Linked DNA regions of Homo sapiens. The protein of the gene in region 2 interacts with the protein of the main gene of each other region in a pairwise test. Each region holds a gene or a part of one and is shown on either strand. Other genes may lie near its edges.

What was found.
Region 1: the proteins of COMT (region 2) and S1PR3 interact in binary tests that used the Homo sapiens proteins (3 or more experiments, as listed by UniProt).
Region 3: the proteins of COMT (region 2) and SLC10A6 interact in binary tests that used the Homo sapiens proteins (3 or more experiments, as listed by UniProt).

What each region holds. Positions count from the first base shown.
Region 1 is NC_000009.12:88,994,368-88,998,017, forward strand, and holds part of S1PR3 (sphingosine 1-phosphate receptor 3), read left to right. Parts: exon of another isoform or gene 1-1,775; intron 1,776-3,650. UniProt on the Homo sapiens protein: Receptor for the lysosphingolipid sphingosine 1-phosphate (S1P). S1P is a bioactive lysophospholipid that elicits diverse physiological effect on most types of cells and tissues.
Region 2 is NC_000022.11:19,940,196-19,943,945, reverse strand, and holds the start of COMT (catechol O-methyltransferase), read right to left. Parts: upstream 2,143-3,750; 5' UTR 2,049-2,142; intron 1-2,048. Other genes in the region: TXNRD2 (thioredoxin reductase 2, mitochondrial isoform 5 precursor), read left to right, coding at 2,143-2,245. UniProt on the Homo sapiens protein: Catalyzes the O-methylation, and thereby the inactivation, of catecholamine neurotransmitters and catechol hormones. Also shortens the biological half-lives of certain neuroactive drugs, like L-DOPA, alpha-methyl DOPA and isoproterenol.
Region 3 is NC_000004.12:86,825,259-86,828,908, forward strand, and holds part of SLC10A6 (sodium-dependent organic anion transporter), read right to left. Parts: intron 2,911-3,650; coding exon 2,735-2,910; intron 320-2,734; coding exon 162-319; intron 1-161. UniProt on the Homo sapiens protein: Transports sulfoconjugated steroid hormones from the extracellular compartment into the cytosol in a sodium-dependent manner without hydrolysis.

The DNA.
Region 1 (3,650 bases), on a different chromosome or scaffold from region 2:
GGGATAGGAAGGATCTCCGGTAGCCTTCGTGGGCAGGATGCCTCTTATTTGAATGTGCCTTTAGCCACCTCACAGAGCCTATTTCCACATCCCTGTGGATTCATCCCTGTGGAAATCTTGAGAATCATTTATCCTATGCTGTCATGAAGCAGCAGCAGAATGGAGAAGGTTTAAAAAGACTCATGGACAGGCAAAGCGGTCAAACACCTCCTGGCTCAGACGCACTTGCCTTCCCACACACAAGTCTGGAAGCTCAGGATGGTGTTCACGGAGGCAGATGCTCGGGGCCGGGGCCTGAGTTTCCTGGGGCACAGCCTCCATATCTGGGGTTCCCTGGACTATGCCCAGATAGCTCATAATGTCCCAGCCTTATTTGTGATGGAGAAGGACTTGGGGAAAAGCCACCGGGAAGCAGTAAGTCTAACCAGGGAAGTGCACTGACTTGCATGCTTTGAAGAAGAGAAGGGAGAAAAGATACAAAACCCTCACCTGGTTTGTCTGTAACAGTTGTTATTTCTCAGGGGAGCTGCATTAATGGGCCAAGCCTGTGCAGCTGGGTGTGTGAAGCATGCATTTTGCAATGGACTGTCTCCAAAAGCAGAGCGAGGTCACCCAAGAAATCTAGAGCAAGGGAAAATACTCATTAGCAAAGGAATTTTGCTGGAGCCTTGTAACGGCCGACTCATTATTTCCTTTCCAAGTTATTTTAAATGAAATTTTAAAAAACATCTTGCTTTCCAAGAAATTTTGCTTGTTGGCATATGTTTGGTGTTTTGATTCAGTTTGGAGGATGAACTAGTTAATTTCCCTGGGAGTACATGCCTATTAAAAATATAGCATCCTGCATCTGACCAAGATGCTATCTTACTATCTTATTGTGCCTATCTTTTATGCGGAGAGAGAAAGGGGGGTGTTGGGAAGGAGACCAGACTGTGGAAACATTTTCTTTATTTTTTCTCTTTTTCTTCCTTTTATAGTTTGTTTATTTTTCAACTTGACATGGGTAGAGAAAGCGAATCGCTAGTATAGAAAGCACATCTGGAATCCATCCGGCCTCCTCTCTCTGGCTCACCCTCCTCCCAGCAATGTTTCTCCTTGGAAGTTGGGGGAAGGTAGGCACCTCTGACCTTGGCAGGGTCTAACTTGGGGTCATCCACTGCATACTCATCTTCCAGAAGGCGTCTTATTCCTCCTCGACAAAAAAAAAATGTGTTGGTATTAAAATGCTTTGAGGTAGGCTGGATGAACCCAGCTTAGTGAGGATGACATGAAAACCCTTAGCTAATGGGGTCTTTATTGAGTAGAACTCAGGTAAGTTCAGATGTAAGCAGTGTCTCTCAGTAAACATGAAAAGACTGAAGATGCAGACAATCAAATACTTAAGTCTCTTGAAGAGCTGGGTGGTGGGCGGGGGTCTTCCCAGGTGGTCAGGGAGATGTGTTAGTGTAGCACTTGGAAGAGAGTGGAACGACCAGGCAAGGATGTGCCGTGGAGGTGGGCAGTGGGAGCAGCCCAGTGTCAGCATCTGTATTGGTTAGAAGACCACCGCTAATGAGGAGGAGCGTCTCTACCCTGCAGCTGTCTGTACTCCTGTGTCTTCCGTAATGTGCCAAGCTCTCTGAATATATGCAAAACTAGTCTGCAAAAAGCCATATGTCTCAGCATCTGGCTTTATTTCTAAGTGTTCAGGTGGAATTTAAGCCGCGATCAAATTTACAATGTCACTGCCAGCTCTGGACACTTACTTTTGGAATAAAGCAAAGAGTGAACACTAATACTGCATCAGTCTTGCCCTCTGTTAGGGGCCGCCCCTTCTCCCCACACCAGTTTTGCAAGATGGGCTGGCTGGGGTCTGAGAAACCCAGTGCCTCCGAGTCATGGTTAAAGCCCATCTCAGACACCAACACACCGCTCACAAATCAACATCGACCTGCGAAAACATGGACATGTGTTCGCCAAGAGAACATCCTCAATCAATCCCAGCAGTGCTACTTGATGATAATCAACACATGGGCCATGGAAGAAATTACCCCATGTCCATAAACAAGAATGAATAGAGGGTAGTGTATCTACCCACACCATGAGAGCAAGAATATTCAGCATGCAGGTGCATCTATGTGCATGACTCGTACAAGCATCATGGGGAGAGGAAAGCAATGGACACAATTGTATCCTGTAGGGTTTCATTCACGTGAAGGTCAGAAGCAGGCTAAACTCACCTAGGGGAGAGTCCTATCCCAGGTAGTGGTCATGCTTGGGGACAGGTGGTGACTAGGAGGGGCACAAGGAAGGCTGCAGGGTCCGGCCCATCTTGTTGCTGGCCTGGGTGCTGGTCTCACTGATCTCTGTGTGGTGGGGCAGGTCAGCCTCCCAGGCCTGCTGGTGCCTGCAGTGCCCAGCACTCCTGCCGTGCCTGGCAGTGTTAGTACCAATCCGCCAGAGTGACTGACTCCCCTCTTGCCCTGAGTAGGGCTTGCTGACTCCAGGAGCCTCAGGGCGGGGTGGGCTTTGAGCTTTCTTCTAGCAAACTTGAGGTCTGTGGCTGGTACCCCTCAGGAGCGGAGGGGAACTCTTGTCCATGAGATGCTTTTAACCGTGCGCAATAATGTGTAGACGCATCCAAAATCAATCTGGCCTTTAGCCCAGCACTTAACTCTTGGGATGAGGCCTGCTTTGTAAATGTTGATAATCCAGAGAAAATGAGCTTTTAGATTCCAAAGACAGCCAGATATCTTCCACTTATGCAAAATGCAGAGAATCATATTTAACAAAAGATGTTCTGGACAAATATGCTTCTTGAGGGATGAATATTTAATTATAAGGGAAATGATAAATCAAACATTAATGGGAAAATATGTTTGCCCTCAAGATTCATGATTTTGATGGGTCTCTGGCAAATCTTATACTATGTTTATTGGGGTTATTTTATTGCTGGTTATTAGTTTTTAATTGTTTGCTTGTTTTCTGCTCTGATCAATTTTTGTATAAGCCGTGGGTCTATTCACCCTCTTCTCTCCATTCCCGGGAGCAAGTCCACATCTGGCTGTTGGATGCATGGCAAAAGCAAAGGTGTGGAGAAGGTTCAGAGGAGACAGGACATGTATAAAATGGTAGGGTCAGGTTGTCATGGGGGAAACTGAGGCACAGGAGGCAAGCTGAGTTAGTACAAGAACAGTCTGAATCATAACGACATGCCAGTATTACCTAAAAGGATGAGGAACATGGAGCTGTACTTGAATCCCTACGTGAGCTGGGGAAAAGGGGCCTCAGGAATCACTGACATTGGAACCAAGGTTTGTCTGCAGCTTGTCGGTTTCTGGGACAGAAACCCAACATACTGGAGTGGGTATCCCAGCAATCTGTAGGATAAACCAGGACACTGTGGTGTCATGGATAGCTGGCTGTCTGCCAGGTGATGGCCCCTCTGGTTGCAATGTGAGCCGGGCAGGTCATCCATTTGGCAGCATGGTGAGGGCTCTGGCCCCAGTTGCTATGGGAGGGAGGATGCTGGCACAGGGCACTGTTCACAGACTGCCTTTGCTCCATGCCTTTTCCATGAGCATGAGTGGCTGTTCGTGTGGGAAACGGCAGAGCCCTCGCGGTCCCCATCAGCACTGTGCAGTGGTACCGGAGGTGGCAGGAGACAGCCT
Region 2 (3,750 bases):
TGCCTGGAGCTGCTGCTACACAGGCCGCCCAGGAAGACCCCCCCTCCAGCTCCTGCATGCCACATGCTCTCTCCAGAAAGTAACCACAACTGGGATACCAATGCCTATGCCATCATCACAGACTTCACACCACACACCAGGAAGTCCCTGAGTGCCCCTGCTGGCCTTGTTAGGGCCCAACGGCCAGAAACCTCAACTGCTGCCCTGTAGGCTCAAAAACTGGGTTTATCAACAGCTCCATTCATCTTTGTTTTTATTTCTTTCTTTCTTTTTATTTTTTTATTTTATTATTATTTTTTTTTTTTAAAGATAGGGGCTCTCTGTTGCTCAGGCTGGAGTATAGAGGCAAGATCATGGCTCATGGCAGCCTCCGCCTCCCAGGCTCAAACGATCTTTTCACCTCAGCCTCCCAAGTAGCTGGAACTATAGGCCCATGCCACCACGCCGGGCTAATTTTTAAATTTTTTGTAGAGATGGGGTCTTTATGTTGCCCAGGCTTGTTTCAAACTCCTGGCCTCAAGTGATCCTCCTCGGCCTCCAAAAGTGCTGGGATTACAGACATGAGCCACTGTGCCTGGCCTGTTATTTTTGTTTCCTCATTAAATGCTTGACTGCTTGCATCATCCAGCAAAAATCCTTTGCTACCAAGTCTCAACAGATGGTCCCGCTGGTAGTTTATGAACACAACACAGAACAGAAAATGGACGGGGACTGTTGAGAGGAAAGAAGCAGGTCTCTGCTCTTCTTGCACAGGGGGAGTGCTGACAAAGACCCTCCCTCCCCACACTCCAGCCAGGCTCCTTAGAGTCCCCTTCTCCACTGGGCCTCACCCTGGCCTATCTAGGCTGGAACGAACACTAACATAGCTCCTAACAGCTCAAGGCCACATTCCCAGAACGATCCTAGCCCCCTCTAAAGTGCCTGCCTGAGAAGTTCAAGGCTGCCACAAGAATTTCCTGTGTGTTCCAGCCAACACCTGAGGATGGGGCCCCTGTCTCCCAGTCTCTGTGGGAGGTTGGGGGCCTGACTTCGGTAAGCCCCAGTGGCAAACCCAGATCAGTTGGTTTCACAGGGGCCAACCCTCCCTTCCCAGTTTTGGTGATTTTCTGTTTCCCTAACTCTACTGAGTCCCCACCCCTTCCCACTCCCTCACTCTCCCTTTAAACTCCAGGCACATCTAGACAAATCAGCATGGAGCCAGCTTTTTCTCATGTTGTCAGTAGTTACCAAGTAAAATCTGTTTTTTCTGCATTAACTAGTGTCTCACTGGGCTCTGCAGGGCAGCTCCTACGGTCCCTCAGGCTTGGAGGGTCACTTTAAACAATAAAAAGCAACAGGACACAAAAATCCCTGGCTGGAAAAATCCAAAAAGCAGGTCTGTTAGCAGGGCAGGCCCGGAGTGACTTCCCCTTTCTCTAACATTCCCACGTGGTCCTGCACACCACACATCCCCCCGACCCTGGGGAGTCCTGGGCCCCTTCCTGGTGGAGCAGCCTCTCTCTTGCAGGGAAAGGCCCTGGGGTACCCCAAGGCCTCCAACAGGGAGCCTGTTGGAGAAGTCACCAAGGCCCTCTGAGTCTGGGGCTCCACAGACCCTCCCCCAGGCCTCCTGCAACTCTCCAGCTCTGAGAGTCTGATCCCAGCCCAAGGACCAAGTGGGACCCTCCCCTGTGACTCTACCACACCCTCACCAGGTCAAGCCCTACTCCAGGGAGAGGCTTATCCTCCTGGTCTGGACCCCCAACCCAGTCTTGAAGCGGGATCTCTCACCGCTATCTGGAGCCCCTCATCACAGCACAGATCTTCAACCTCAGCTTTCCACAAGGAGTCTGGGGACCCCACCCCGGTCCAAAGATCCCCACCCAAGGTCCGAATTCCCCAGTTCCCATCCAGATTCCCCACCCCAAGTCCGGAGACTCCCACCCAACGTCAGATCACTTCACAGCGGTCCGAATTCCCCACACCCTATCCCAGTGTTCCACCCTAGGTCTGAAGGCCCCCGCCCCGAATCCGGCCGCATTCGGCCCCGGTCTAGCCAGCGCTCTCACCTCTCCCGCGACGGCCCGCCCGGGACTGGACCCGCCCCGGTCCGGCGCAGGCAGCGCGGCGGGCAGCCCTAGCTGCCCCAGAAGCCCCACGACGATGGCGGCAATGGCGGTGGCGCTGCGGGGATTAGGAGGGCGCTTCCGGTGGCGGACGCAGGCCGTGGCGGGCGGGGTGCGGGGCGCGGCGCGGGGCGCAGCAGGTAGGATGGGGTCGGGGCGTCCCCGCGGTAGGTGTCCGCGCGGCCGGGGTGTCCTCGTGAGGGTGTCCGCGCGGCGGTGGCCAGGGTGTCCCCGTGGGGGTGCCCACGCGGGGGTGTCCACATACCGGCCTCTTGGTCTAGTCTTGCTCAGGAGTCCGGGCTGCTTCTAGCCACAAGTAGCCCCCTTCCCAGGTGGGGAAACTGGGGCTGGGTGCCTTGTCTAAGGTCCTGCTGTGCTGACTGCACCTGTGGTCTCCCAGAGCTGGTATCCCAGTAACAACTACAGTTCTGAAGATGATGATATCCCACCTCCCGAGGTCACCAGGCACCGGCCCCACTGGCCAGACTTCCCAACTTCTCCCCAGACCCCTAGACTCTAGAGGTTAGAGGCTGCACAGAGCAATGGGAGGATACACACTCGTCCTCCTGGAGCCCCTGAAGAACAGTTAACTAAATCAGGACAATAATCATAACTGAGCACTCGAAGCAGAGGCTGGGTGTCTGGTCACTCAGGACAGTTCAAGCCTCATCCTGTAGGACAGACTCCCCTAGATCCGACCAGAGCGCCACCATATCTGTTATGTGTGGCCAGTTTCATTCCATGCACGACAACATGGTCCCCCACCATGCAGGGGGCCCCTCGACCCAGCCCCCTGGATGCTTGTGACAGCGAGCAGCTCTCCCCACAGGCAGTGAGTGTAGAGGGGTGTAAGGACGGGGTCAGGGCTCCTTCCCAGGGATGGCGGCTATGGGAGGCATGGTGGCTGGCCCTCTGCCCGCGGTGGACTCGGGAGGGAGGGCTGACTGTGTGTGTGAATGGGCAGAGTTGGTGCTATGGAGGTTTTGGGGGTCTCCAGGACGGAGGGTGGCCCAACAGAGTTCTGGGAGGCAGTCACCACCTCGTGGCCTTGCTGAGACCTGGAACCCTCAGCCAGGGCACTCCATCTTTCAAAGCTTCTTGGCTGCATGCGTCAGGTGGGCAAGCTCAGGAAGGTTAAATGCACCCGTGCTGGCGGAGTCCCATAAAAGGGGATTCGGCATCAAAAGGAGGAAAAAGGTTCAAAGGGCATTTATCATGGGGTTCAGAATCACGGATGTGAGGGGCGGTAGTGGGGACAACAGACAGAAAAGCTTCCCCTTCCCATACTCACAGTCCAGACACGGCAATAGCCAAATTCCAAATTTCTAGGTATTCTGGACTCAGAATGGGGAATATCATACGAGACTTAGGGGGATAATGCCCTTATCTTCCTATTTTAAGGGAAAGAACAAACTGAACCTTCTATGCAAAATAGGATGATGATCCTGGTCCTCCCAGTAAGAAATAAAATAAGTAGTCTCCAGGCATTCCTTTCCGCCAGAGGAGCAACTGTTTTTTAAATAGCCCTTTCGTGCCCAGTCTGTTACTAAACCATATGAGTTGTTTTTTTGGGGTTTTTTTTTTTTTTTTTTTTTTGAGACAGTGTCTTGCTCTGTCGCCCAAGCTGGAGTACAGTGGTGCGATC
Region 3 (3,650 bases), on a different chromosome or scaffold from region 2:
AAACTATCCTGTCTATGTGCCTTATCGTCCCCAGAAATGTCAGGCTTTCAAAAAGTGTATCACAGGGGCAGCACATGCAAGTTTGGATTGAAAAAAAAGTTGGTAAGTTGGGGTGAACAATTTCCCGTCAGTTATTTCCTACCCAATGGGTGTTCACCCACCTGCAACAATAAGAAATCCATCTATCAGCTGGAAGAGTCCATAGGCCAGTGGGAAACTCAACATCTGGACCAAGTGCTCAGCAGTGAAAGATAACTGGAGCATGGTGATGCACATCTGAATATTCTGAGCTCCAGTTTCTAAGGAAATTGTCCTGCACCTACCAAAAAGAAAATGTTTCAAGAGTAACGCACTAGCAATAAGAACTATTCTAATATTTTCTCATATGCATCATAACAATTAGAAGCTATGACCTCAGGCCACTGAAAATGTGTACTCATTCCATAGTTATTTGCTGAGTGCCTATTCTGCAGGTGGTCTTCTGAGAGGCACGGTGGAGTGAGGCTTTGCAAACCCTGCCCTAGGCATCTGAGTAAAAAGACAAGATAAACACACAGGAGAGGTTCAGCAACAACACAAGACAAAGTATGGCCAAAGGCCACGCAGATGTAGAAATTTAGAAAATGGCAGAAGGGGTGAGAGAAGGCTTCACAGAGGAGTGGGATTTAAGGATGGAAAAAAATAGAAGAAGCTTTTGATGAGGGGGAAATATTATAAAAATTAAAGTTCCAGGGAGAGGTGTGAGTGTGGCCTGTTCAGCAGGCATTGCATATACTGTAAGCCAATCTGCAGAGAGGAGAGGACTGGAGGAGACAAGAATGGAAAGTTGAGTTAGAGATATGATGCAGGACATGGTGGCTCATGCCTGGAATCCCAGCACTGAGAGGCAGAAGCGGGAAGATTGCTTGAGCCAGGAATTCAAGACCACCCTGGGCAACAGAGTAAGACCCTGTCTCTACAAAAAGAAAAACGTATATATATTTTTGAAAGACATATGAAACAATATAAACTAACCAACACTTAAAAACAAATAAACAAGGCCAGGCACAGTGGCTCACGCCTGTAATCTCAGCACTTTGAGAGACCAAGGTGGGTGGATCACCTGAGGTCAGGAGTTCGAGACCAGCCTGGCCAACATGGTGAAACCCTGTCCCTACCAAAAATACAAAAATTAGCCTGGCGTGGTGGCACACGCTCCTGTAATCCCAGCTACTCGGGAGGCTGAGGCACGAGAATCACTTGAATCCAGGAGGCAGAGGTTGCACTCCAGCCTGGGCAACGAGGTCTCAATAAATAAATAAATAAATAAATAAATAAATAAATAAAAACACAAAAACCCTGAATAAAGACCAAATTCCTAAAATGATTATCTTTGGTGAAAGAGTTTGGTAATAATTTTTCTTTTTGCTTTCTACTTTTCTATACTTTATTGGTTTTCTGGTTGCATAAAATGAAGTAAACCTCATTTGAAAAGACAAAGGAGGGAATAGAGGGAAGACCTGGGCAGGATGTTGAGGGCTGAGTTAAGCAGTTTCACGTCTCCAGTTTATAAAGGGAGCCTGCAGTGTTTTATATGTGGAAGTGAGGAGATAAAAGAGGTGTTTCAGAAAACAAACAAGCACCTCTGTGCAAGCTGGACTGGAATGGGGAAGTAACAAGGGTGTGTAATGAGGGGGTGAAAATGCTGTCAATGGTACAGGGCAAGCTCTGTGTTCATACGTTATTTCTACTTATTCTATTGCTTGCTACACTTGTCTCAAACCACCCTCACTTCTTTGAGACTTTTGTCAAAAACTCGATATGATTAAGCTACAAAGCTGGAACTCACACCTGCACCATTCATGAGCCAAATCTCAGTCCTGGGCTTTGTCAGGCTATCAGGTATGAAAAAGATGGGATTGTGGACTACATCTTGCCATAGGAGTACTTTCTGTCCAGAGCCAATTGCATTTCAACCACTCAACAGACTGTGTTCCTAATTGTTAAATTTGGAAACAAACCCAGGTCCAAATCCTAACTCCACAATTTTCTAGCTCTATGAACTTGGTCAAGTCACTTAATTTCTCTGAAGGGTCTGCTCATCAGTAGAATGAGGGTAGTGATAGGATCTACTTCTCAAGCTTGTAGTAAGAAGTAAATGAGATAGATGGGGTAAAGCTTTACCGGGCGCTTAGTACAACCCTAAATGTTCCCCAAGTGGATTAGAAGTAGCATAAAGCCAATTAAAAATTCCCAACTTTCACCTTTGGAATTCAACTGCATAGTTTACTCTTCTTTAGTAATTTTTTTCTGCTTTTAAAAGTAGTACATACTTATTGAAAAGCTTCAAAAATATACCAAGGAAATACTAAAGAACTAAAATTATCCTTAATTTCGCTACTCAAAATTAAACATTGTTACCATATGGTGTATTTCTTCCAGTATATTTTGATGCATAGAATTCTTTTTGCTTTCTTCTACGAAGTGGGAATCAAATCATGTCGTTTTCTATTCTTTTTTAACTTAAATTTATCTCTTCCTATCAATTTGGCCTTTGCTTTAATTTACATAAAGAATTACCACAATATTTTCCATGAATTGCCATGAATGACCCTCTTTTATGCTTAGTTATCCTGTCGATTCCACTATGTAAGTCAAAACTCTTCATGTCTCCTGACACAGGCAGCAAAGCCTACCAGTGGCAGTGTGTTAAATTTACCTTCCTCAAAAAAGTTTATGGATAGTTTAACTATACCTTTGCCAAGACTGGTGGGTAAAAAGTGCCAGCAGAAAACCCGTGACATGGCCAATCAAAGGAAAGATGAAACTGATGGTCAGAAGGGTGATGTCTGAATTCCAAGATCCTTTCGCCAGGACCACACCAGCAACTGCGACCACCAGAAGGAGGACCCCACCAACAACGGCCCCAATCTGAAGCAAACAATAAAATAAGTGAATATAAACTCAGGGTTTTTTGCTCTATGATACAAAGTCCATCAAGGTTGTAAAATGCTTGGGATCTAGAAATTTTAGAACAAAGAAGGGACTTAGAGATGACTAAATACAATTTCATTTAGTAGAGGAGAAATCTGAGTTCCAAAGTGGTCAAGTAACTTGCCTATGCTAGAAATTGGTGGAGTTTGACACAAATCTAAGTCTCGCTTTAGCATATCTACCTTTCTCTTCAAGTAGAAGATTTTGCCAAAAGGATTGGGTAGTAGAGTTCTATTGTGGGTAGAACAAAAGTGTAAAATGAATGGAATCTGACAATGAGCTTCCAACACCCCTGCACACACCTCTATGACCCTCTGCTTGTGACCTCCAGTCTGACGTCTGCCCTGCCTGACCATCTGCCTCCCCTCCCACCGCCCCTTCAACCACCAGCAGCTGCCTGCTGCTTTGATCCCTGTCCTTCTCCCCTCCAAATAAAATTTACCCATTCTTCATTGGACAATCTGAGCTAATACTCATGATCACATGAGAAATACTGATGGAGACCTCTATCCTCTCCCAAATGGATACTGTCCTTACTTTTGTTGTTTAACAAGAACAGAAACAAAAGCCAACAATAACAAAATTTTGAATAGTTTGAGATTTAGATAAAATAGGAAGAAAGCATAACCTAGGGTATTTTGGGAAAATCAGGATCTTGGCAAGCTCCTGTTCATATC